7 linked regions of the Homo sapiens genome follow. The protein of the gene in region 1 purifies or fractionates together with the protein of each later gene. This does not show direct contact. Each region holds a gene or a part of one and is shown on either strand. Other genes may lie near its edges. The genes, in order: VEGFD, ZBTB25, F10, FCSK, PTPRU, ZNG1B and MR1.

Region 1 (3,500 bases):
CATTAGCAATTGTTCAGTTTCATCTCCAGATTTCTTAGATGAAGAAGCTGTGGCAAGCCAATTTCACAAACCCGATCTATGATCCTCATGCTCCCCACTCCTCTCACTCCCACAATTTTGCCTTGATTCAAACTTTATCGAAAAGTGAGAAATCACAGGTATGAGCTCACTGAGCTTCCCAGGCAGTCTTGCCATCTACAAACCCATGTCATTCTGTATTTTCCTCTTGTTTCTGACAGTGATCCTCTCATCTAGTCACACTACATCCACTTATCTCTGGCACTTATGTCAAAACAACCCCTCTAGGTCCTGCCTTAGCTCTCCTGCATATGCTTTTTCTTTCTTCCTGTCTGTTGCCTCTTTCCCCCAGCTTATAATTCTCCCGCTTTTATTAAAAACATGCACCCACAGACACACACTCACATCTGGATTCCCAAGTGCGATAACCTTGTAGATTCATATTTTCAGATCGTTCTTAGTCCACAGAATATAAAATTGATTGAATGATGGCAAACATCTGCAGATGACAATCATTTACAGAAATGGCACTAAAGCCATGAAGCTGAAGCTGCAGGACTTATGGATCTGGGCTAGAAGACAGGGGCCATCAAAAATTTAGCTTCAGTTGGAAATCGGCTCTTTTAGTGCACTACATCAGATCCATGAAAGAGGAAGGAAGAGTTACTGCTCATTGCTGCCTGGAGCTGTGACTTCTATGAAATTACTTAACGGGGCAAAGGAGGAAGCAGATACTTCCTTGCAACTAGGACGTGAGCTGAGCTGATCCCTGAATCATAAATACTCAACAAGATTCGGATTCAGGACCCAGGGTATTATGGGGTACAACCATAAAACTTCTAAATGTTGGAGAAAGAATAATGAGAAAGAAAAATGAATCTCTGAATGAAAATGGAACTACTAACCAAAATTCCAAATCACGTTAATATAATTATTACTAAGAATGACAGCAACAAAATGAATAATCAGTATATGTCATACCTATAAAGTTAAAATCTAAAATAATTTGAAGAAATACTTAAAAATATTTGCAACCCTCAAAGAGATAAAGAAATAATATTCATAAAATTGAAATGACAAACTAGGGGCAGGGCGCAGTGGCTCACGCCTGTAATCCCAGCACTGTGGGAGGCCGAGGTGGGTGGATCACAAAGTCAGGAGATCGAGACCATCCTGGCTAACACGGTGAAACCCTGTCTCTAATAAAAATACAAAAACAAAATTAGCCGGGCGTGGTGGTGGGCGCCTGTAGTCCCAGCTACTCAGGAGGCTGAGGAGGGAGAATGGCGTGAACCCGGGAGGTGGAGCTTGCAGTGAGCCGAGATCGCGCCACTGCACTCTAGCCTGGGCAACAGAATGAGACTGGGTCTCAAAACAAACAAACAAACAAACAAACAAACTAGGAAGAATATACAGAAATGTAACAGAAAGTAGATAGGAAGAAGAATGAAGTAGAAATGCTTGAAATTAGAAATACGGTGATTGAAATTAAAACCTTAACAAAGTAAACTCTAGACTCACAACAATTGGAGAGTTGGTGATTGGAAAGATGAACCAATTAATTTACCCATAACACATTAGAGAGAGGTGAAGAGGAAAAAATAGCTAAATATAAAAGCACATTTAAGAGACATGTAAGATGATTAAAAGCCTCCAACATTTTTCAAAAAAGAGAGTAGAGGCAATATTATAGGTGGAATAATGAAAATGATAATGGCTGAGAATATTAAAGAATTGAGAATAAAAAAGACAAGTGGCCTCAGATTGAAACTGCCATGAAGGTCTCTGTCTCAAATTCTCAACTCTGCTTTTGTAGTATGAAAGCAGCCGTAGACAATAAGTAAATGAATGGACATGGCTGTGTGTCAATACAACTTGATTTACAAAAACAGGCAGGCAGCAGGCTAAATTAGGCTGGGAGGTCATAGTTTGACAGCTCTTGATCTAAAGAATAACCATTGTTGGCCAGGCGCAGCGGCTCATGTCTGTAATCACAACACTTTGGGCGGCCAAGGCGAGCAGATCACTTGAGCCCAGGAGTTCAAGACCAGCCTGCGCAACATGGCGAAACCCCATCTCTACTAAAAGTACAAAAATTAGCCGGGCATGGTGGCAGGCTCCTGTAGTCCCAGCTACTTAGGAGGCTGAGGCAGGAGAATCGCTTGAACCTGGGAGGCTGAGGTTGCAGTGAGCGGAGATGGTGCCACTGCACTCCAGCCTGGATGACAGAGCCAGACTCGGTCTCGAAAATAAATAAAGAATAACCTTTGTTTACATTTTCATGTATATGTCTCCAGATGTTCCTCATATATCCATATAAGTATGTATATATGATGTACATAAGTGCATAAGTAAAAATACATAAGTAATTTTAAAAGAGGTTATATCATAGCTGAATCACACATGACTTAGACCACACTTGCTCTTCTGAGTACCCATTTTTGGACAACTCTCAGTGTCCACTAGCATGTCTAAAAAAAATTTCTCCTCCTAAAATGCTAATGCATGATGTAGATTTTAACTACAGCTTTTGAGGCTCAGTGGAGGAGAGTGTACATCACACTACCCAATGCAAAGCCTTTTAACAGCCCCTTTTGCTCATCTTTGTTTTCCTTCACTGTTCCTCGCCCTGCAGCAGGCAGCTGACATTCACCTTTCCCTTCCACCCTCCTCTCTCAGCACTGGTCCTTTGCCTCCTCCCTCATCCCAGCTCTACAAATGGCCTCAGCCTGCATATTCCAACCACCCAGCAAAACAAACATCTAGTAACTACCGGGTCAGCAAGAGAAAATCGGAGGCCCTAGCCATAGATAGATCACCTTATCATTTCTCCAGCACATTCCAGGAAGGATCTCAATTCGTTCTGTCCCAATATACCTCTACATCCTTTGTTTTGATGATCACATAGAATTCATTGTATGCATATATCATTATTTATATAACTAAGCCCCCAATTTTGAACAAGAGGCTACATACTGAAAATCTTTTATCTACCAAGTCTTTTTTTTCTTACAAACCCATCCAATACAGTTGCACTGTATCCGCCAATACAGTTCATGCAACTGTATGGAAAGCAAACTCTAGAAGAGTATTTGATAGCTCCATAAGAATATTAAACTCTTATACTTCTAGAGCGTAAAACCCCAGAAAAGTATTTTGTCAGAAAAAAATCATGTTTTTGAAATAGTAGGTTTTAAAAGAAAACAAAGAGAGTTAGAAGTAAGAAAATTCAGGTTATCAGGGGCTTGATATCTTTTTTTTGTGACTGTAGTCAGGTTACCCAGGCCTTTGTGGATCAATTTCTCAAACAAATAACAGAGATGAAAACAACTGTCAGTAGCTACTGTCACAAAAATAATATGATAAACATCTTTTCGTTTCCTATGGCTGCCATAACTAATTATCACAAACTTGGTGGCTTAAAATAACAGAAATGTATTTTCTCACAGCTCCAGAGTCCAGAATTCCAAAATGGAAGGGTC
Region 2 (3,500 bases), on another chromosome or scaffold:
ACCACTGCACTCCAGCCTGGGTGACAGAGCGAGACTCCATCTCAAAAAAAAAAAAGTTCTTCCAGCTAAAACCTTTATTTTTTGACTACATCTCCACAAAATGGAGCTATACTGTTAGCCAGTATCCTAATAGTATAGTGCAGTTTGCATAATGATTACCAAGCTTGAAACTGGAAATGTCATATGCACTTTCGTGTGTATCAGGCAGATACTAAACATTTTCCCCTTGAGTCAGCTTAAAATTTTTCCTTCTTTTGAAATCTCACGCAGTTGTTTTCTGGAGAAAAATAGAGACTGTTTTAGTATTTGTTCTTATTAGCGTATCATCAGAACTCAGCACAGTCTGCCTTATAAGAAAACAAAAAATTTTTTTATTTATAACTCTTGAGATTGTTACTTCTTGCTCTTTCTGATTTCCCATCCGTAAAGTGGGTGTAAGCAATACTTACCTCACAGGGGTGTTGTGAGGATTTATATTAAACGTGTTAAGTTCTCTCAGTATTATTGATTAAAATCAACCATATAAACGACATTTATTCTGTAGCTAGACCTATTAACTTTAGTATTTCAGCCTATAAATTCTAAAATGTTCTTAAAAGCAGTAATGTACTATCTAATATTCAATAACTAATTGACAGAACTCATTGTTATTTTTTACAAATAACTAGAAACAATACTGTTGCTAGAATTCCTGTTCTACTGTAATTTAATCATCACTGTTTCTTTTTAGCCTTCAGTAAGGAGGATACTAGTTCTTTGGCATTATTGGGAATAAAACTTTGTCAATTTCAGCTTTATTGAAAGTTCTCCCAAATATATTGTTTTTGTTTACACAAAGGAAAAGGAACAAAAACAATAAATAAATACCTTTGTTTTTTTTTCTTTTTTGAGACGGAGTCTCGCTCTGTTGCCCAGGCTGGAGTGCAGTGGTGCGATCTCGGCTCACTGCAACCTCCGCCTCCCAGGTTCAAGCGATTCTTCTTCCTCAGCCTCCCGAGTAGCTGGAACTATAGGCACGCACCACCACACCCAGCTAATTTTTGTATTTTTAGTAGAGATGGGGTTTCATCATGTTGGCAAGGCTGGTTTCGAACTCCTGACCTTGTGATCTGCCTATCTCAGCCTCCCAAAGTGCTGGGATTACAGGTATGGGCCACTGGGCCCAGCCTATTTTTATTTCTTTGATGTAGGTGATCTAAATAGTAGATGAGGACAGGAAATGGGGTGAAGGTAATAATAGTATTATTAGAAAAGTCTTCACTGAAAATTGAAGGAAATACATATTAATCGTGGAAAAAGATAGTGTGAAAAATGTGTAATTTCGTTAACATTTATTTGTACAGGCACATTCTTGATGTTGTGAGTCAGATACTTGATAAATGTCCATTTTTTGTAGTAATTGATGTAAAAATGGGCCATGTGAAGAATTTTCATAATGTAATTTGTGTCTTTGTATATTTTGAACTACATATAGATTTGTGGCACTTAAATTATTAATTTTTGATTTCTTAAGAGTGAAGTCTGTAAATGATTTCTCTCTGCTGTACTTCTGTGTTTGTATGGTTGGACATTTTGAAAACTGGTGAGATTGCACAGTCCCAAACCTGGATGTCTTAAATACAAGGAATTACAAACTGTGATTTTTGTCTTGAAGACCTGGAAGAATTCATTGTGCTTCAGTATGTATTTGTACTGCACTTGATTAATTAGTTAAGTATTGGTCTGGTGCAATTGACATTAACTGTCATCAACTCCTCTATTTTGTGCTAAATAAAGTCATTTAGTCAGAATGGATCAAATATAAACTTATACTTTAAAATAAACTTAGATTATAAAAACTTGTTCAATAAAAAAGACCCACTGAAAAATCTTCAAAGTACATGTAACACATAGCTAATACAGGAGACCAAAATCAATAATACATTGTGTGGCTAAACTCATCCACCTAATGTACTGTGAATTTGCTTCAGAAACATTCTTTTAGAAAGTTGTGTATCTGCCGGGCATGGTGCCTCATGCCTGTAATCCCAGCACTTTGGGAGGCCAAGGCCCAGGAGTCCGAGACCAGCCTGGGCAATATAGTGAGACCTCATCTCTGCCAAAAATTTTGGCCAGGGGCAGTGGCTCACGCCTGTAATCCCAGCACTTTGGGAGGTCGAGGTGGGCGGATCACCAGAGGTCAGGAGTTCAAGATCAGCCTGGCTAACATGGCGAAACCCTGTCTCTACTAAAAATACAAAAATAAGCCAGGTGTGGTGGTGCGCGTCTGTAGTCCCAGCTACTTGGGAGGCTGAGACAGAATCATTTGAACCCGGGAGATGGAGGTTGCAGTGAGCCGAGATTGCGCCATTGCACTCCAGCCTGGGCGACAGAGTGAGACTCCGTCTCAAAAAAAAAAAGGCAGGGTGTGGTGGCTCACACCTGTAATCCCAGCACTTTGGGAGGCCAAGGCGGGCGGATTATGAAGTTAGGAGATCGAGACCATCCTGGACAACATGGTGAAACCCTGTCTCTAGTAAAACACAAAAAATTAGCTGGGTGTGGTGGCACGTGCCTGCAGTCCCAGCTACTAGGGGGGCAGAGGCAGAGGAATTGCTTGAACCCGGGAGGCGGAGGTTGCAGTGAGCCGAGATTGCGCCACTGCACTCCAGCCTGGCGACAGAGCAAGAAACAATGAATTTCATATATTTTATCAAGACAAATTAATGTGACTTAATCAAAAACAAGTTTATTAGCTTAGCTTATAGAATGTGTTCTTATTTTACATCAGTGTTTGCCAAATGTTGTGTTCCTAGTGTTGAGGCAAGTAGTCTTTGTACTGGGTAACATTTTGGAGGTGTGATGCAAAAATGCATTTGTGGACCTAATTCTTACCGACCATAATCTGTGTTAATCGAAAATTGACGTCCTAATCAAATGCTTTCCAACTGCTGTCTCTGGAAAGAAAGGTAGTATTTCGTCATTTCCCAGAAGTTTCTTGCTTTGCTTCTTCTTTTTTTTTTTTTTTTTTTTTTTTGAGATGGAGTCTTGCTCTGTTGCCCAGGCTGGAGTACAGTGGAGTGATCTCGGCTCACTGCAACCTTCACATCCCAGGTTCAAGCTATTCTCCTGCCTCAGCCTCCCGAGTAGCTGAGATTACAGGTTCCCACCACTACACTCGGCTAATTTTTTGTATTTCTAGTAGAGACGGAGTTTCACCATGTTGGCCAGGCTGGTCTCGAACTCCTGACCTTGTGATTCACCTGCCTCAGCCTCCCAAAGTGCTGGGATTACAGGCGTGAGCCACCGCGCCCAGCTGCTTCTTTCTTCTCTATTTACAGTCTACTGTATCGCCTTTTGCCCCCAGTAACATGATCCACAATAGTAGTTCTCAACTGAGGTATATTAGTCAGGATTCTCCAGAAAAAGAAAGAAACAACAGGTAGAACTGAGAGAGAGAAAGAGATTGATTGATTATAAGGAATAGGTTCATGTAATTATGGAGGCTGAGAAGTCCCAAG
Region 3 (3,500 bases), on another chromosome or scaffold:
CTGTGCTATTCCAGACGCTCTCCTGTGCCTCCAGTTGTTTGCGTGCGCCATTCCTTCTGCCTGAAAACTTTTTTTTCTTCAATGTTTCATTAGGAAAAGTTTTCCAACACACAGCACACTGGAAAGAATTTTGCAGGGAGTCGCACACGCCCAGCACTTGGGTTCTCCTGTTGGCATCCTCCGGCCAGATGCATTCATCCCATTTCGCCCGGCCCGTTTGTCTCTGTCCATCCGTCAAGCTTTCTTGACTTCTTGGTGCATTTTCAGGCAAACCGCAGACGCCAACACTCCCCTCGCTGCCTGGGTTGCTGCCTGGCGTCCATTGTTCACAGGCGGTCACCTGAGGGGAGGCCAACGCTCGGACAGCTGCGCTCACCTGCAGATCCGACCCCTGCCGACGACGTGGGGCCTCGCCCTGCAAGCCCGCTGCCCCTCCGGGTGCCCCTGCGCTCTGCCTCCCGGCTCTCTGACTCTTCTCCCTCAGGGTGAGCTGTGCAGGCTATGGGGAGCCTCTCTCTGTGCTGAAGGCCCCGGCCGTCCTCTTTCTTTCAGGGCCCTACCCCTGTGGGAAACAGACCCTGGAACGCAGGAAGAGGTCAGTGGCCCAGGCCACCAGCAGCAGCGGGGAGGCCCCTGACAGCATCACATGGAAGCCATATGATGCAGCCGACCTGGACCCCACCGAGAACCCCTTCGACCTGCTTGACTTCAACCAGACGCAGCCTGAGAGGGGCGACAACAACCTCACCAGGATCGTGGGAGGCCAGGAATGCAAGGACGGGGAGTGTCCCTGGCAGGTAACAGTAGGATGTCCCCTCGGGCCTGCTGGAGAGACCACCTGTCCCGCTGTGCACCTCGGGGAGGCCAGCCTGACACTTGGAATAGCAATCCGGGAAGGAACTGTTCCGAACTAGGACAGAGGGGCTCCGCCACCCAAGCCTGCCTGCCTGTCCCCTCCCTCCGGGCAGCCAAGGAGGCTGTGAGCTCCACAGGGAAGTGGCCGGGGCTGAGGGAGAGGCTGGGCCCAGGCAACGCCCCCCTCAGCCCCTTCCCACTGGGCATTTCCATGGCTGCCCGTGGCATGCCCAGGACGATGCTGTCCTGTGAAACAGAAGAGAGGGAGAAGGCGCAGCCACACGCTCAAGTGTCCTCAAACCTCCCCTACACCAGGAGACAAGGCTAAAGCCAGGGAGCCACCCACACTGCAGGGGCATCAGCGGGCAGGAGGACGGTGCCGGGTGGGCAAGGCCTCCATCTGCTCTTCTGTTTGACGGGAGGCAGAAAGAGTTGGTGTCCTCGCTTCATTTCTAATTTTGGAATTTTTTTACCCAAACACCTAAATCCTATGGAGGTAGATAGTACCTTAGAGAAAAACACATCTACTTATTTTCAAAGGTAAAAAAGAAAATCACTCTTTGAGGCTTTTTTGTTAAGAGACAGTACCTTGCTCTGTTGCCCAGGCTGGAGTGCAGTGTCGCGATCTCGGCTCACTGCAACCTCCACCTCCTGGGTTCAAGCGATTCTCATGCCTCAGACTCCCAAGTAGCTGGAATTACGGGCGCCCGCTACTTACGCCTGGCTAATTTTTTTTTTTTTTTGAGACGGAGTCTCACTCTGTCGCCCAGGCTGGAGTGCAGTGGCGCGATCTCGGCTCACTGCAACCTCCACCTCCCAGGTTCATGTCATTCTCCTGCTTCAGCCTCCCGAGTAGCTGGGACTACAGGCGCCTGCCACCACGCCCAGCTAATTTTTTTTGTATTTTTAGTAGAGACGGGGTTTCACCGTGTTAGCCAGGATGGTCTCCATCTCCTGACCTGGTGATCTGCCCACCTCAGCCTCCCAAAGTGCTGGGATTACAGGCGTGAGACAATGTGCCCGGCCATGCCTGGCTAATTTTTTTATTTTTAATAGAGACAGGAATTTCACCATGTTGGCCAGGCTGGTCTCAAACTCCAGGCCTCATGTGATCCACCCTCCTCAGCCACCCAAAGTGCTGGAGTTACAGGTGTGAGCCACTATACCAGGTCCTAATCTTTGATTGTTGATTTGGACTAATGCTGCCAGATTAAACAAATAAAAGCACAATACTTTCAATTAAATTTCAATTTCACATAAACTAGAAATACATTAAACAAAAGCACAATACTTTCAATTAAATTTCAATTTCACATAAACTAGAAATACTTTCAGTGTAAGTATGTTCCAAGTATCGCATGAAGCATACATATGCGAAAAATTATTTGCTGTTTATCTGATTCAAGTCAAACTAGGTGTATTAGTCAGTTTTCACACTGCTGACACATACATACCCGAGACTGGGTAATTTATAAAGAAAAAGAGGTTGAATGAACTCACAGTTCCACGTGGCTGGGGAGGCCTCACCGTCACGGTGGAAGGCGCAAGGCACGTCTTACATGGCGGCAGCAAGACAGAGAATGAGAGAACAAGCAAAAGGGGTTTCCCCTTAGAAAACCATCAGCTCTTGTGAGACTTATTCACTTCCACCAGAACAGCATGGGGAAACCGCCCTCACGATTCAGTTACCTCCCACCAGGTCCCTCCCACAACACACGGGAAATATGGGAGCTACAGTTTGAGATGAGATTTGGGTGGGGACACAGCCAAACCTTGTTGCTGGGCATCCTGTATTTTCTCTGGCAATCCTCACTTGGACTTGAATTTTCAGCGCCCAAAACCAGAATGTCCTCTCCTACAAGCAAGAATCTCAGAGCTGCCAGCGCCCCCATGAATTCCCCCAGGTCTTCCCCCACCCCAGACCGTGTGGCGGGTGAGCCTCTGTCTAACTATAAAGAGCCAAGCGAGAGAGGGATGCACTGAGGTGGCTCTGCAATGCATGTTTGTTGAGGGCCTTCTGTGTGTCAGGCACTGAGCCGGGTGCTGTGTAGGTGGGATATGAAACCATGAAGCCTCTCTGTGACCAATACACAGAAATCTCAACCTAGTTAGGGAGCTGAGACCGAAATCCTCCCAGTCCCAGGCACTGTGTGGTTGGGGCAAGAACCTCGATGCAGGAGACCCCACCGAGGATGAGCAGGAAAAGCCTCTTGTGGGGCTGAGGAGCTGGACTTGGAGCTGCAGGCGGGGTTTTGGAGGGGTTCCTGGGCTGGGGGACCAGGGTGGGGCGCCCTGGAGGGCTCACTGGAGGGGCCCTCGCCCAGCCTGTTGAGGTTTGCGATTCTTGTTTCCTGGTTCGAGTCTTGGCAAGTGGGCCTCATCTGCATCTTTAGGAAGAATGGTTGGTGTTCGTGTCTTAGAAAGCCTGACTTTCCCTCATGTAAGCTGGATGATGAGTTGACAAATTATGCAAAAAAGAGGCAAAAACATGACCCCTTTTCTAGCCATGAATGTTTTAAGAAATGTTTTAAGACTCGGTATTGTCAGTAGTTTCATTGGTCTGTACATGTGCCCAGCCACTATCACAGGACGGGAAACTCCCCAGAGAAAAGAAAACCAAAATATGCCCGGGCTCCAAACTTGCA
Region 4 (4,292 bases), on another chromosome or scaffold:
ACCTTTCTCCAAAGATGATTTTGAGGGCTTCAATATTTAAAGGGGAAAGGTCAGATATTGGGGAAAGAGGAATTTTTTTTTTTTTTTTAGACAGGGCCTCACTGTGTTGCCCAGGCTGGAGTGCAGTGGTGCAATCTCAGCTCACTGCAACCTCTGCCTCCCGGGTTCAAGCGATTCTCCTTCCTCAGCCTCCCAAGCTGCTGGGACTACAGGTGCGCGCCACCACGCTCAGCTAATTTTTGTATTTTTAGTAGACGGGGTTTCACCATATTGGCCAGGCTGGTCTTCAACTCCCGACCTCATGATCCACCCGCCTCGGCCTCACCAAAGGGCTGGGACTACAGGTGCGAGCCACCGTGCCTGGCCTGAAAGAGGAAATTTTTAAAAGGCATGGGTAGGTAAGAGGCAAATGGCTGCATTCTTCTGAGTCTTTGATAAGCCTTTCACATGTTAGAGGGGGATAGAGGACTAGTCACTTATGCATTCATCTAGCTCAGTGAATATGCATTTTTACATAAGAAAAAATAAACATAGGGCAGAGGAAGCAATGAGATATGCATTTGTCTCAGGTGAGCTGAGAGATGACTTTCAGTGCTGTCAAAGCCCAGCACCTGTGAAGATAAGCTATAAATTTACATTGTCACTGAAATTCCACACAACTGTTTTAGGGTACAGATTTGGGGGCACACAAGGAATTTCCTAGTGGGCAAGTTGTGAGGGCCAGGCCATATCTAGCTTTTTTATCTTTGTAGTTATCTTGTTTAAGAATAAAATGGGAGGTAGGTTTCCCTGATGCAGTTCTCAGCTTGACTTTTCCCTTTGACTTAGTGACTTTGGGGTCCTGAGATTTATTTTCCTTTCACATAGTAACCTAGAGAGAGACACTCAGAGTATTTCCAATTGTCATCTATGACAATCAATGCTGCCATTCACAACTTTCCCAAAAGGTCCGCAGATCCCCTCCCCATTACGGAGTTGGAAAGTTTCTTCCCAAAGGATCCACGTGATGAAACCAGCGCAAACCTTTCCAACTGCAAATCGAATGGCAGCTGCTTCCGCTTGGGCAAAGCGTGATTTTTTTTTTTCCTCCATCAGTGGATTTTTCTCCAGAGGAAAGCGGAAGCTCCTGGTGCCGTCCAGAAGGTGTTAAAAAAAAAAAAAAAAAAAAACCCAAACGAGAAAACAAACAAAAAAGCTACACATTAACCTATTAACCTGGATCCCGGAGTCCCAGAAAACGGGCCTCTGTCTTTAAGGCGCTTCGGTCCTCTGGGAGTTGTAGTTTCGTGGGTCCTGGAGCGGCCCCCTTCCCATCTCCCTTCTGGATTGCAGCCCCGCTGCCCTTCAGGAAAGCGCTGCCCCGGCCACCCACGCTGGCCTATGCGGTGGCTCCGACCGTGTTTTTTGCCGGACGGGGGCTCGGCCTTGGGGGGGCGCGGAGGTGAAACTACACTTCCCGGAGTGCACCGCGAGGGTCGCGCAGCCTCGCGTTAAAGAGCCCGCTCCGCCGAGCGCCGGGCGACGGCAGGTACGTCAGTCCGCGAGGGTCGCCGCAGCGCCCCTTGCGCCCCTTGCGCCCCTTGCGCCCCCTCAGCTTTCCGGTGCACCCTCCCTGACTGGGAGCACCGAGTCGACCCGCGGGCCGCCCGGGTCCTGACAGGGAAGAGTCCCCGGGAGCTCTGCGGTGCCCCGGGAGCCCACAGGTGTTTCTACGCTCCCGCGTCCATTTGGCCTGGGTCTTCCAAGGGGAGCCCCGCGACCCGGCTGGTGCGGCCGGACCTGCTGGCAGCTGGGACCGGGAGGGATGCGGGCCTCAGAGGATCCTCACCCTGAGGCAGGTGGGGCCCTGGATGCCGGCGCTGCTCTGATTTTACTTTGAGGCCGCTTCTCCTCTCTCAGTTTACCCGGCCAGGGCTCAGTATTATGCACAAATCTCAATGATGTGCTCTTGGGTAATTTACAAAACGATTTTACTCCCAAGTAACTTCTTTCGGTCTGTTATTTAGAAGGCAGCAAGTCAGAGTCCTCCGTGAGCCTTTTTTTCCTCTTTAAAGTTCTAAAATGTGCAGTCCCTGACCCACCTGTCTTCAAAAGGTTCATATGAAGAGTTCTTAGTACTTTATTCTATCTCTGGCTCCCCAACCCTATCCCAGTCTTGGACAGCGTGGGGCTGAGGACACTAAAAAATATTTCAACTTGATCTCAGCAGATGAGGCTGTATTGAAAGTGGGTAGAGGCTGGGCGCCAAGGCTCATGCCTGTAATCCCAGCTACTTGGGAGGCTGAGGCGAGGGAATCGCTTGAACTCAGGAGATGGAGGTTGCAGTGAGCCAAGATCACGCCACTGCACTCCACCCTGGGCGACAGAGCGAGACTACGTCTCAAAAACAAAACAAAACAAACCAACAACAACAACAACAAAAGAACCTTAGGGCCTTAGGGCACACTTTCTCAGGACCTCTTGAGATTGTGTAACTCCAGCAAACTATTAATTAAAAAAAAAAAAAAGGCCGGGCGAGGTGGCTCACGCCTGTAATCCCAGCACTGTGGGAGGCGGAAGCAGGTAGATCACCTATGGTCAGGAGTTTGAGACCAGCGTGGCCAACATGGCAAAACCCCCTCTCTACTAATAATACAAAAATTAGCTGGGCGTGGTGGTGCACGTCTGTAATCCCAGCTACTTGGGAGGCTGAGGCAGGAGAATCACTTTAACCTGGGAGGCGGAGATTGCAGTGAGCCGAGATCGCGCCATTGCACTCCAGCCTGACGACAGAGGGAGACTGTCTCAAAAAAAAAAAAAGCCAGGCATGGTGGCTTACACCTGTAATCCCAACACTTAGGAAGGCCAAGGCGGGAGGATTACTTGAGTCCGGGAGTTGTAGGTCAGCCTGGGCAACAAAGGGAGGCCCCATCTCAACAAAAAATAAAAAACTAGCAGGACTCATGCATAGTCCCAGCTACTTGGGAGGCTGGGATGGGAGGATCGCTGGAGCCCGGGAGTTTGAGGCTGCAGTGAGCTGTGATCACATCACTGCGTTCCGCCCTCTGGTGACAGAGCCGGACCCTGTTTCTCAAAAACAAAACAAAACAAAACAAAAGCCTAGCCTGCCTGTGCTATTAAAGCAATGGCAAAAGCCAAAATTACTTTTGCACCAACCTAATAGCTATGTTTCTGCTTTTTAAACTACAGTTTTCTTGTCTAGAGCTTCAGTGAGATAAGAACCAATTCTTAGGACTGTTGGGTGGGTCATATGAAGTGACACTGATGTGCCTTTGCCATAGTGCCTGAAAAAGCACTCCATATGTATTAGCTACTTGTATCATTTTACCTTTTTTGTTAATCTCTCAGGGGATGTCCCTCAGCCTTGCTTGATTCCCGAGGCCTTCCCTGATTTTTTTCTTCTTCAGGACAGTCTTTAACTCAGAGAATGTTTGAGAGCTTCCAGTCCTTCCTCCTTCAGGGACAGGTTAAACTCTCCTGCTTCCTTGCCTGGCTGGAAGGATTATCATTCATTGAGCCACTGGTGTGTGCCACATACTTTACATTGTATTTCATGCTGAAAACAGTCCTGGGAGGTTGATGTCTTTGGCCTTAAATTTCAGATTAGGAAACTGAGGCTTAGAGAGGTTAAGTAACTGCTGGGCATGGTGGCTCACGCCTGTAATCCCAGCACTTTGGGAGGCCGAGGCAGGCGGATCCCAAGGTCAGGAGTTTGAGACCAGCCTGGCCAGCATGGTGAAACCCCGTCTCTACTAAAAATACAAAAAATTATCCAGGCATGGTGGTGCGCGCCTGTAGTCCCAGTTACTCGGGAGGCTGAGGCAGGAGAATGGCTTGAACCTGGGAGGCGGAGGTTGCAGTGAGCCAAGATTGCGCCACTGCACTCCAGCCTGGGTGACAGAGCGAGACTCCATCTTAAAAAAAAAAATAGATTAAGTAACTTGCTCAGGATCCTACAGGAAGCAGGAAGAGGTAGAGATGGGGACAGAGCCTTTTGGGACTGATACGCAACCCAGGACTGTTCCTCTGCCCCTGTCATTAGTAAGGGATACTCTCCCCACTCTGGCCATGACCTGTCACCTGCCCATGTCTCTCTATCACTATGCTGAGATGAAGACTGGGCTCAGAACTTCTGGGCCATTGGACTCTCTGGGGCATTTCTTTTTTTTCTTGAGACAGAGTCGCTCTGTTGCCCAGGCTAGAGTGCAGTGGCGTGATCTTGGCTCACTGCAGCCTCCGTCTCCTGGGTTCAAGTGATTCTCCTGCCTCAGCCTCCTGAGTAGCTGGGACTA
Region 5 (3,500 bases), on another chromosome or scaffold:
GTTGGCCAGGCTGGTCTCGAACTCCTGACCTCAAGTGATCCGCCTGCCTCGGCCTCCCAAAGGTGCTGGGATTACATGCGTGAGCCACCGTGCCCAGCCAGTTGTCCTTCTTAAGAGCTACACTCGAATGCTATCACAGGTCCAAAGCCTTTCCCTGGGTTCCTACAGATTCCAGTTACCACTAAGCTCCTTGGTTTATGGCTTTGTCTTGCTGCCGCACGTGCACAGTTTTCTGTTCTGCACAGCATTGGCCTAGATTCAAAATTCAGCTCCTTCTTTACTTTCTGCTTTTCTCTGCCTTAGGACTTCAGCTTCCCCATAGTGGTTTATCAAGGTATTTTCCCAAGCAAAGATCATTCTCTTCCTAAATGACACTCCTGTGCCTGCCATTAACAGTATACATTTACACAAGAAAAACAAAACAAAGCCATGCCTGCAAGTGTTAATGCTAAAATGTTAACAGTATCTCTGGGTGATACAATTGTAGATGCCATTAATTTTCTTTAAGCTCATTTTGATTTTCTACATTGAACATGTCATTTATGTAATTAGAAATTTTTAGACGAGAAAATATCGCCACCCATAATCCCAATACCGCAATGCAATTGCTGTTTTCATTTCTCTGGCCCATGTGCATATTTTCTGAAAACTACCCAACTGGAACAAAATTGGAGCCTTCAAACGTATTTCTCTCCTGAATGCAACCTACACAGTAATGAAAATGCCAGCTATCCATTTTGAGTACTTAGTAATAGGTTGAACCATATGCAATTGCTGATGTTTGCCTTGGGGCTTTATGTACATCACATCATTTGAGTCCTGGCTTGAGAGGGGTTATATCATTCCCACTTCACAGCTGAGTTAAGTAAGGTGCAGAGAGGCTGAATAGTCCATGAGAACCAGGTAGGAAGCGGCAAGGCTGGAATTTAAACCCAGGTGTCTGGCACCAAAGCCCACTTTCCCCTGGCCCCTGCTGCCTTTCCCTTGCAGTGCCCAGTGGGATTGCAGCCGAGTCCCTGACCTTCACTCCACTGGAGGACATGATCTTCCTCAAGTGGGAGGAGCCCCAGGAGCCCAATGGTCTCATCACCCAGTATGAGGTGGGTTTGGGACCCTATTACAGTGGGGGACCCTGGTGGAAGGTGAGAGGTGGCCCTCTTTCTCTCTGCTGCTACAGTAGGAGGTGCATGGGAGGACAGATGTGATTGTCATAGTTTCTTCAACTATGGCCAGGTCTGTGCCCTGTGTATTCTAGAGGAGGGTCCTGAAGGCAGGAGGGAGAGCCGAAGATGACTAGAAGCCTGGCTTGATGGCATCCATAGTCTCCTTTGCTTAGCCTTATCTCTCACTTCCCTGGGACATGGTGGGTGGAGGCTGCTGGTCAGGGATGCTCTGACCATCCAGTGCCCACCTGCCTGCCAATCCTGCCCCCAGATCAGCTACCAGAGCATCGAGTCATCAGACCCGGCAGTGAACGTGCCAGGCCCACGACGTACCATCTCCAAGCTCCGCAATGAGACCTACCATGTCTTCTCCAACCTGCACCCAGGCACCACCTACCTGTTCTCCGTGCGGGCCCGCACAGGCAAAGGCTTCGGCCAGGCGGCACTCACTGAGATAACCACTAACATCTCTGGTGAGCCCCACCTGACCCGGCCCAGCCTCTTCGGAGGTGGCCCAGAATCCCAGGGTTCCATGGGCAGAAGGGAAATGGGGGGCATCCTGGGGGTAGTTACAGAGGGCCCCTGCTGAGATAAATATGCCATTTAGGAGTTAAAGTCAGGCTCAGGGAGGATGAAGTCAGAGGAGTCAGGAGACTGGTCAGTGGAATCAGAAGATTGAGGTTGGGGCTGGTGCCTGAGGTCAGGGGCCAGGGTAGCTCAGGTCATGTCAGCAGGAACAAAGAGGCTAAGGCTGAAGTAGGGGAGATCTGAGGACTGTGGTCAAGGAGGCTGGAAGCCTGGTCTTCCTGGTCCAGTGGCCAAGCTCCAGCTTGTGACCCTGTCCCCTTCTCCAGCTCCCAGCTTTGATTATGCCGACATGCCGTCACCCCTGGGCGAGTCTGAGAACACCATCACCGTGCTGCTGAGGCCGGCACAGGGCCGCGGTGCGCCCATCAGGTGGGAAAGCGGGGACGGAGGGGTGGGAGTCCAGGGCCTTAGGAAAGAGGCCCCTCCTCTGACCCAGAGCCCCATCCCAGGCCAGCTCACCCTTTTCCTCCCTCAGTCTCCCACGCAGGGCTTGGAGTGTCTGGAGGAGATTGTTCTGTGATGCTTGGCAGGCAAGAAGCCTGCAGTCCCTCCCCTCTGAGGCCATGGGTCTCAGATGGTGACTGTCAGGAGGACCCTGGATAGGTCCAGCCTGGAGAGGGGACTGTCCAGGCCTGTCCAGGGGGCCTTTCCTCAGACACCTTGGAGAAGTGAAACTCTGGGGGCCTTATATCATCCCAGCCTTTTCCTGGAAGCACAGAGATGGGCTTTCTAGAAGGCTGGGGCAGCCAGCCAGATAGGGCCATCTCTCTGGAATGGCTAGGAGCTTGGCTTCTCCACCTCCTCTCCCCAGAGGAAGCTGGGCTTGCTGGTGCCGTGGTGGCTGCCTCTGCTGGGGAGAGGGTGCTGGAGACAAGACTGTGTGTGTGTGTGTGTGTGTGTGTGTGTGTATGTGGGATGTGAAACTGGGTGTGTCTTTGTGATAAAGACATGGGATGTGTGGTGTGAGTGTGTGTGAGAGGCGTATATGGGAGACATAAGTGTGCATGTGTGTGAGAGTGTGAGGGTGTTTGTGCAACTGTGTGCACGTACTGTTAGCCAGACCCCGTGCTAGGGGCTTTATCTGCATGAAGCCATTTATCCTCATGGCAGCCCTGTGGCATGGGTATTATTACCTTCATTTTACATATCGGGAAACTGACTCAGAGCCTGAATCACTTGCCCTCAAGGCCACACAGCTAGTAAGTGGTGGAGCTGGGATTTGGAAGCCAGGTCTATCTGCTGTGCCTGTACCTTTTCTAGAAGTTATAGAGCCTCCCTGCCCTTCTGGTCCACCCCTTCCTTCCACGAAGGTACATGCTCTGGGAGAGGGTGACAGCCTTTAGGTGGGGGGGGTGTGAGGGTCCTAGTCAGTTCCCTAGGAAGAGAGTGGGCTGCCTGGGTGACCATGGCAGTCCCTCACCTCCTCACTCCCCACTGTATCCTCTCCTCTTCTGCTTTGTCTTCCCTGTATTTGCCACTGCAAATCCTGCCCTGGGCTGATTCCCAGACCCTCAGGGAAGACCCAGGAAAAAGTCACGGGGTCTGCAGGGCCTTTTGCCTGTTGCTAGAGCCTCAGGGCCCTTATGCCACTGAGTCTGGGATGGGTTGGGAACCCTTTCTTTCTTGTCCTCTTGAGGGATCCTGTGAGCAGCACTGGTCAGGGTCCCTCAGGATGATGATTGCAAGGCTAGGTGGGGGCAGGCTTGGTGGGAGGGGAGCGGCAAGATGGCTGCATGACCCTGGGCATGT
Region 6 (4,209 bases), on another chromosome or scaffold:
TTCAGAGAAGGAAGGAAAAGTCAACCTTTTATTTGGCATCAGGATAGTAGTAAAACATTCTACTTGTGCATCAGATAGATTTTTATGACCTAACCTGGACAAGTAACTTAACTCTTGGTGCCTCATGTTTGAAAGAGGGATAACACTCTACAGGGTCATTCTAAGAATTAAATATTGCCAAAACACATGAAAAGATTCTCAACCTTGTTAGTAATCAAGGAAATGCAAATGAAGATCACAATGAAGTCTTCTTTTGTACTCAATTGATTGGTGAAAAATGCATGCCTGATAATATTGACATAACAGACCAATGAGATCTCTTATAATTTGCTGGGAAAATGTATCAATTTGTACAAACATTTTGAAAAATAATTGTGCATTTTCTTGTGAAGTAAAACATTTGAATAATCTAGGACCCAGCAATTCAGCTCTTACACAGACACTCAAGAGGAAGTTGCACACACATATGTCAGGAAAAATGTTCATAGCAGCCCTGTTCATAAGAGCAAAACCTGGAACAATTGAGAGGAAATGAATAAATTGCCGTGTAGCCACACAATAGAATACAAGACAGCAGTGATGCTGAAAAATATAGCAAGCCTCAGGAGTTTATATATTATATGGATAATTTTATGAAGCTCAAAAACACCCAAAATTAAACAACATATTCTGTAAGTACATACGTGGGATATGTGATAAAACTAAAAGGGAATGATCAGCAATCCAGAACCAATTCATGACTGTTGTTACTATCTTATGGGGCAGGCTGTGGATTGGAAGCAGGGGCGGTGCACATAGGTACGTGTAACTTACTGGTAATGCTTTTAGGTTAGGAATGAGGTCAAAGGAGTTCACTATAAATTTATATTAGAAAGAAGGGCTATCTATGGATTAGTGATGAGAGTGTCATGCACCAGCAAATACGATTAATGAACTTAGGTTACCTGAGGTCCAAATAAATAATGAGAAAAAAGTAAATAAAAGTGATGCATGAATACTAAAAATTTGGAATTACATATATAATATGTAATAATAAAAAAAGAAAAAATTGTCACTGGTTATCCTTCAGGTATAAAAATTACAATTAAAATTGTAATGTTATAACCTTCCATTCTTTCCCCTATGAATTAAAACTTTTTCTTTTAACGAGACTAAAAAATCAAGTTGATAAAATCTATGCCCTGTGGGAACTGGTTAGGTCAGGCTACCCACTCCAGATTTCCAGCAGGCTGGCCTCAGCTCTACCTACAGCCAGTAGCTTATTAAGGCTCTAGGCGCCAGTGACACCTTCAGACAGGTGGTTAGTGCGCCCTAAGGACTCTCCGCAGCGTCGCTCAGGTTCACAGAACACGCCCAGGGGCGTGTCCAGCTGTCGTCGGGGAGAGCCCACCTCCCCGGGGGGTGTGGCTAAGGGACGAGGCGCTTCTCGTCCAGAGCCCAGGTAATCCGGGCGGGATCAGCGAGCGTCGCGATGTGATGACGTCAGGCCCCGGGCAGGCCGGGAGTGGCGTGCTGGGCGTGCGCGGCTGCGGTACGGCGTGTTGGTCCCAGCGGTTCAGCTGAGGTAGGGACGTGCTGTAGGCCGGAATGTTACCGGCTGTTGGATCTGCGGATGAGGAGGAGGATCCTGCGGAGGAGGATTGTCCTGAATTGGTTCCCATGGAGACGACGCAAAGCGAGGAGGAGGAAAAGTCTGGCCTCGGCGCCAAGATCCCAGTCACAATTATCACCGGGTATTTAGGTAACTAACCATCCCAGTCACAAAATGGCGTGACCTCTGGTGTCATGGGATTTTGCGGGCTGCCGGTGCCTCTTCTCCTGAGGCATTGGGGCCTCATGATCAAGAGCAAATGTCTTCGAGGTAGGGGCTGGGTCACTTGCTTCTCGTATGGGTTGCCTCTCATCTTGGGAGTTAATGATGCCCGGCCCCCTCTGCGTTAGATTCCCATTTCTCAAGTGAGATGGAAAGTTAGCCTTTGAAACAAGGCTTTGACGCTAAGACACGCCCCCCTGATTGTCTCTGTGACCTCCTACCAAGTTATCTTACCTTCCTGACGCTCATCTACCTCACCTGAAAATGGAGAAATACCTGTCACCTGTGAAACAGGGCCGGAACCACCTACCTGTTGCCATTAAAGGATGTCCCGTCTGTAAAATGCCCGACACGTGGGGCTTTCGTCAGTAGATTCCCCTTCCCCACGAGCCAAAGTCCTCCAGCCAGTTGGCAGGGAGCGCTCCTATCTTAAACACTTTTTTTTTGAGGTCTGTTTGTAAACCACTGCGTAGGAAGTAAGAATAAAATCTCTGTCCTCCAAGACTATTTCTCAAACTAAGAACGTTTAGAGTGTACAGGGATACTCGAAACCACAAGTTTGTGAACTTGGTAGTTTCGTGAAGGGCGGTTTATGCACTTACACTAGAAGTTTCTTACTGGAAAAGTTTGAGAAATATATTTTTAAACCTTACAGTTAAATAGAAGGGCTAGAACAAATATATGACTGTATTAGAAGTTTGGAAAAAGTTAAGAAATGTAAATAAAATGATACTGTTTCCGGGAAATAATATTCCTAGTTGTTGCTAGAGACAGGTACAGACTTGGGCCACTTCGTGACCTTTTATGTAAAAATAAGAAATAACTGCTTTTGTTTTTTAAAAAACTTTGTAGACTGTAAGTTTATTCCCGTTTTTTGCTCGGAAGTAATTTTATAAAGGAATTTATTTTTGGCGTTTCCCCACAGTTATTCAGAGGCTGCTCTGCTGAGAAGATGAACAAATTTCTTGTCCAAAACAATGTATTTCAAACGTGCCGCTCGGGCCTTTCCCGTATTGCTCACTGGTAGGTCAGTAGATCACTGGAGAAAATGATCTGAAGCTCAGGAGTGAGAATTAATACCAGCAACCTTGTTGCTGAATCTAGGGATAGTTTCACTCCTATCCCTGACCATTTTCCCTTTCTGAAACACTGTTCTTTTGGCTTCTATTACATTTTTCTTCTGATTTTTCCACCTGCTTCTCTGGCTTCTTTTTAAGGCTCCCTCCTCCTTCCCCCTTTGTCCATCTTTAGCTACACACCTGTGTAATTTCTATTTTGATGTCCTACAACTTAAAACTTAACATGTCTGAAACTTCGTCTGTTACCATCCCCCCAAATCCTGCTTCTGTGATCCCAACCATTTGTAATACTCTAAAAGCCTCCTGACTAATCTGGAGTCTTGCTGCCCTTTAATTTATTCGTTGCATGTTAGCCTTAATGATCTTTATAAATGTCAATCCGACTGCGTCACACCTTTCAGTGGCATCCCTATGGGTTAAAATCCAAATTCCTTAACATGAATTACAAGGACCTGTAGCATCTGGATCTTGCCAACCTTTCCAGCCTGCCAAATTGGCCCCGCACAATGAACTAATGTTACTTCAAAGGTGCCAAGTGTTTTAGCCCCTTGGAATAGGTACTTTTTTACTGTGACTCCTCTGGCTAGATGTCCCTCTTAGGTTCTCCATAGCATTTTGTGCATCTCCTATTGAATATGTCACCCTGTGACATAATTGCCTCCTTATTCACTGAATTCCCCTCCATTCCCCCCTTCCCTTAATTTTTTTTTTTTTTTTTTTTTTTTTTTTGAGACGGAGTCTCGCTCTGTCGCCCAGGCTGGAGTGCAGTGGCGGGATCTCGGCTCACTGCAAGCTCCGCCTGCCGGGTTCACGCCATTCTCCTGCCTCAGCCTCCCAAGTAGCTGGGACTACAGGCGCCCGCCACTACGCCCGGCTAATTTTTTGTATTTTTAGTAGAGACGGGGTTTCACCGTTTTAGCCGGGATGGTCTCGATCTCCTGACCTCGTGATCCGCCCGCCTCGGCCTCCCAAAGTGCTGGGATTACAGGCGTGAGCCACCGCGCCCGGCCCCCTTAATATTTCTAAGCTCTATGAAGGCAGAGACTATCTTGTTCACTTTTTCACCAAGGCTCAGCATAAATCTGTAACGTATTAGAAACCTTCGAATGAATGAGCTATGTCTTAAAGTGTTTTTTTTTTCATAATATGGTTAAAAAGCCCTAGTAAATCTTCTCTTAGAAGATTTCTTACATTCACCCTTTCCTTTCAGTTTTCACATCACTGCCCTGTGAAACACTCATGTTCAGGGCCTCTGTCTCAGGCTTGGACTGGTTTTAAGATTTTCCTCATTGCCCTAAGTCTCTCCCATTCTATACT
Region 7 (3,500 bases), on another chromosome or scaffold:
GCTAGAGTGCGATGGCGCGATCTCGGCTCACCACAACCTCTGCCTCCCGGGTTCAAGCGGTTCTTCTGCCTCAGACTCCCGAGTAGCTGGGATTATAGGCATGCGCCACCATCCCCGGCTAATTTTGTATGTTTGGTAGAGACAGGGTTTCTCCATGTTGGTCAGGCTGGTCTCGAACTCCCGACCTCAGGTGATCTGCCCACCTCGGCCTCCCAAAATGCTGGGATTACAGGCATGAGCCACCGTGCCCGGCAGTATTTTTTTTTTAATCATCTCTTTATATTATGATTCTTTTAGTATTATAAAATCCCCCAGGAAGAAACATAAATGCTACAAGTGCATAACAGAATGTTTTGTCATCACATCCTTGTCCTTGCCTCCTCTTCATCCATTTGGACATATTATGTGTTAGGTGTAGGGCAAGGCCTTGGAAACACAGAGGCTTTTTATCTGTGTCTTTGATGAGAGTATCCTGCAGTTGCAGAATCAAAAGGCATTTACATAGATACATTATCACCTGTGTCTATGTAAATATGTACCTTTTCACTTTAAATGCCCACCCAAAAATATATTACATCCTAACTATTCTGATTGTAAGAAGAAACCATTCCAGAAATAAACTTGCCTACATTCTCTTCACAGTGCAACACTGCTTAAAAGTGGCACGGAAATTGCCCATGGCAACCCTAAAAACAAAATAAACACAACTGTGCTTCTATGCAACTCAACAGGCACCGGAAAAGAGAGATGTACAGTGGTAGCTTCATATATGGAATTACATGGGACAGTGGAGCAAGGAGGAAGCCTGGCAGGTGAGCTCTTAGAGGCCTGGCACACTGAGGGTATCTTTCTTTTTTTTTTTGGAGACAGAGTCTTGCTCCGTTGCCCAGGCTGGAGTGCAGTGGTGTGATCTCGGCTCACTGCCACCTCTGCCTTATAGATTCAAGTGATTCTCCTGCCTTAGCCTCCCAAGTAGCTGGGACTATAGGCACATGCCACCATGCCCAGCTAATTATTTGTATTTTAGTAGAGACAGGGTTTCACCGTGTTGCCCAGGCTGGTCTTGAACTCCTGAGCTCAGGGAATCCGCCTGCCTCAGCCTCCCAAAGTGCTAGGATTACAGGCGTGAGCCACTGTGCCCGGGCTGAAGGTACCTTTATCTGAGGCTGTAATGATTAAAGCCAAAGGTCAAATGTCACAGTCAAGGTCAAGGGAGAGCAGAGGTCAAACCTGAGGTGCAGGACAAAAGCCACTTGTCAAAGTTCAGGTCACTGAAGTAAGCATTAGGGCTCAGGTGCAGAGTCAAACGGGGTCAGAGAAGTAGGACCGAGGAATGTGTGACTGGCAGCCCCAGGGCAAGTAGCTCCACATGGCAGGGCAGTAGGTGAGGCCTCAGGGGTTGGGGATAGTAAGGAACATTAAGGGGATGTTCATTCTCACCATGGGCTTTTATTGATTCCCAGTGCATATGTATGAAGACAACCTATGTAGGAAGGCAAGTCATGCCCAGCTACCATGAGCCAGCACAGGAAAGGCAGAAATGAGAATTGAGCCCTCTCCTGACACCAAATATACTGTTATTATTATTATTATTATTATTATTATTATTATTATTATTTTGAGATAGAGTCTCACTCTGTCGCCAGGCTGGAGTGCAGTGGCGTGATCTCGGCTCACTGCAATCTCTGCCTCCCGGGTTCAAGCAATTCCCCTGTCTCAGCCTCCCAAGTAGCTGGGACTACAGGCACGCAACACCATGCCCAGCTAATTTTTTGTATTTTAGTAGAGACAGGGTTTCACCATATTGGCCAGGATGGTCTTAATCTCCTGACCTCGTGATCCGCCCGCCTTGGCTGCTCAAAGTGATGGGATTACAGGCGTGAGCCACTGCACCTGGCCATACTGTTATTTTTACATTAAAATAGTGCAGCTGGGTCCAGGTCTCTGTAGTTCCACTGGAGGTGATGATATGTCTGATAATTATTTCTCTTAATTTCCCACAAAAGACAAAAAGGGTGAGACTACCTCCATAGATCCAACCGGGCAGATTACCAAGATTCCAAGCTCCCAGGCAGGGTTGCTGTGAACAGCAGGGGACTTTGGCTTTCTCTCAGGCCAGAAAATGTATAAAAATAATCAGTCCATTCCCAGGCCATTGTAGAAACCTGCCGGCTACTCTCATGGAGTGATCCAATCCTACCTGTAGGGTCACAGTCATGGTGCCCATGATATTCAAAGCGCTTGTACAATAAATGTTCCCATGAAAGATGAATGAGAAAGGCCATTTTATGAAGTACTGAGGTTCCCTTCACATGGTGTTCAAGTGGAGGCTGGAGGCTCAAGTCCAAGGCATTGCAGAAGACAGTTCCTGCTCTGGTTGAAAAGATTCCTTCCTGCTCTGAGAATCTCCAACTAGTTGCAAATCATCATTGACAAATAGAATGTAGGGAAGCGTTGTGTCATGAGACAAGCTGTATTTAAAGTCAACTCTGATAAAACAGTCCATCAAAAGAGACTGAAAGCTGACAGTCTTTTTGGAGCCAAAGAACAAAGAACATTTTGTGGCTCCTCTGTTGCTGCCATAAATGCTCAATCCCATTACTCTCATGTATGTTGTGGGTGTCGTCAGGACCTTCAAGCACTAGGCTTGACTCTATGGGGGACAGAGGATAACATGGCTCCTAGAGGAAGGAGAACTGGAAAAGAGGGATCTGCAATCATCGATCTGGTGTTGGAAGGTAGATGGCTCCATTTTGCTCTGAAAGGAAAGGGGTTTTTAGTCAGATTACAAGAATGTTTCCTCACAGCTCAAAAATAAAGTATGCAGTGTTCAGCAAAATCTGAGAAACAGGCATCGACAGTTTTAGCTTGCTTTGTCAAGATTCTCTTAGTACTTGACAAACTTTAGCTCAAATTTGTAAACTCTATAAGATAAAAAGCAGGAACTCACAGTCTGTATAATTATTGAGAGAGGGATGTCATTGTAAAAAAATTTTTTGTTTGTTTCACTATCATTTATTGGATTAGGATTAGTGCTGTACTTTATCTATAAAGAAAACATTAACAACCCATTAACTCTCTGAGCTGATTTTCTTTTCTTTTCTTTTCTTTTTTCTTTTTTGAGACAGAGTCTCGCTCTTGCTGCCCAGGCTGGAGTGCAATGGAGCGATCTTTGCTCACGGCAACCTCCGCCTCCCAGGTTCAAGCGATTCTCCTGTCTCAGCCTCCTGAGTAGCTGAGATTACAGGCATGTGCCACCACGCCCAGCTAATTTTTTTTTTTTTAATATTTTCAGTAGAGGCAGGGTTTCACCATGTTGGCCAGGCTGATCTCGAACTCCTGACCTCAAGTGATCCGCCTGCCTCGGCCTCTCAAAGTGCTGGGATTACAAGTTGTAAGCCACCACGCCCGGCCTCTGAGCTGATTTTCTAGTAAAAGGGTTGGTTTTACTTTGATCTAACAACATGCTTTTGTACAGTTATCACCTGAATTGGAGTTGA

What was found.
Region 2: the proteins of VEGFD (region 1) and ZBTB25 purify together in Homo sapiens (affinity purification with a luminescence readout, with the first as the bait; one study listed by BioGRID). This does not show direct contact.
Region 3: the proteins of VEGFD (region 1) and F10 purify together in Homo sapiens (affinity purification with mass spectrometry; one large-scale study listed by BioGRID and IntAct). This does not show direct contact.
Region 4: the proteins of VEGFD (region 1) and FCSK purify together in Homo sapiens (affinity purification with mass spectrometry; one large-scale study listed by BioGRID and IntAct). This does not show direct contact.
Region 5: the proteins of VEGFD (region 1) and PTPRU purify together in Homo sapiens (affinity purification with mass spectrometry; one large-scale study listed by BioGRID and IntAct). This does not show direct contact.
Region 6: the proteins of VEGFD (region 1) and ZNG1B purify together in Homo sapiens (affinity purification with mass spectrometry; one large-scale study listed by BioGRID and IntAct). This does not show direct contact.
Region 7: the proteins of VEGFD (region 1) and MR1 purify together in Homo sapiens (affinity purification with mass spectrometry; one large-scale study listed by BioGRID and IntAct). This does not show direct contact.

Annotation. Positions count from the first base shown.
Region 1 is NC_000023.11:15,363,914-15,367,413, reverse strand, and holds part of VEGFD (vascular endothelial growth factor D preproprotein), read left to right. Parts: intron 1-3,500. UniProt on the Homo sapiens protein: Growth factor active in angiogenesis, lymphangiogenesis and endothelial cell growth, stimulating their proliferation and migration and also has effects on the permeability of blood vessels.
Region 2 is NC_000014.9:64,479,839-64,483,338, reverse strand, and holds part of ZBTB25 (zinc finger and BTB domain-containing protein 25), read left to right. Parts: 3' UTR 1-3,500. UniProt on the Homo sapiens protein: May be involved in transcriptional regulation.
Region 3 is NC_000013.11:113,143,299-113,146,798, forward strand, and holds part of F10 (coagulation factor X isoform 1 preproprotein), read left to right. Parts: intron 1-552; coding exon 553-797; intron 798-3,500. UniProt on the Homo sapiens protein: Factor Xa is a vitamin K-dependent glycoprotein that converts prothrombin to thrombin in the presence of factor Va, calcium and phospholipid during blood clotting.
Region 4 is NC_000016.10:70,453,103-70,457,394, forward strand, and holds the start of FCSK (L-fucose kinase), read left to right. Parts: upstream 1-1,492; 5' UTR 1,493-1,528; intron 1,529-4,292.
Region 5 is NC_000001.11:29,278,022-29,281,521, forward strand, and holds part of PTPRU (receptor-type tyrosine-protein phosphatase U isoform 1 precursor), read left to right. Parts: intron 1-990; coding exon 991-1,100; intron 1,101-1,434; coding exon 1,435-1,636; intron 1,637-2,017; coding exon 2,018-2,120; intron 2,121-3,500.
Region 6 is NC_000002.12:113,436,282-113,440,490, forward strand, and holds the start of ZNG1B (zinc-regulated GTPase metalloprotein activator 1B), read left to right. Parts: upstream 1-1,409; 5' UTR 1,410-1,587; coding exon 1,588-1,741; intron 1,742-2,738; exon of another isoform or gene 2,739-2,790; coding exon of another isoform or gene 2,791-2,836; intron 2,837-4,209. UniProt on the Homo sapiens protein: Zinc chaperone that directly transfers zinc cofactor to target metalloproteins, thereby activating them.
Region 7 is NC_000001.11:181,054,483-181,057,982, reverse strand, and holds part of MR1 (major histocompatibility complex class I-related protein 1 isoform 1 precursor), read right to left. Parts: intron 2,759-3,500; coding exon 2,718-2,758; 3' UTR 1-2,717. UniProt on the Homo sapiens protein: Antigen-presenting molecule specialized in displaying microbial pyrimidine-based metabolites to alpha-beta T cell receptors (TCR) on innate-type mucosal-associated invariant T (MAIT) cells.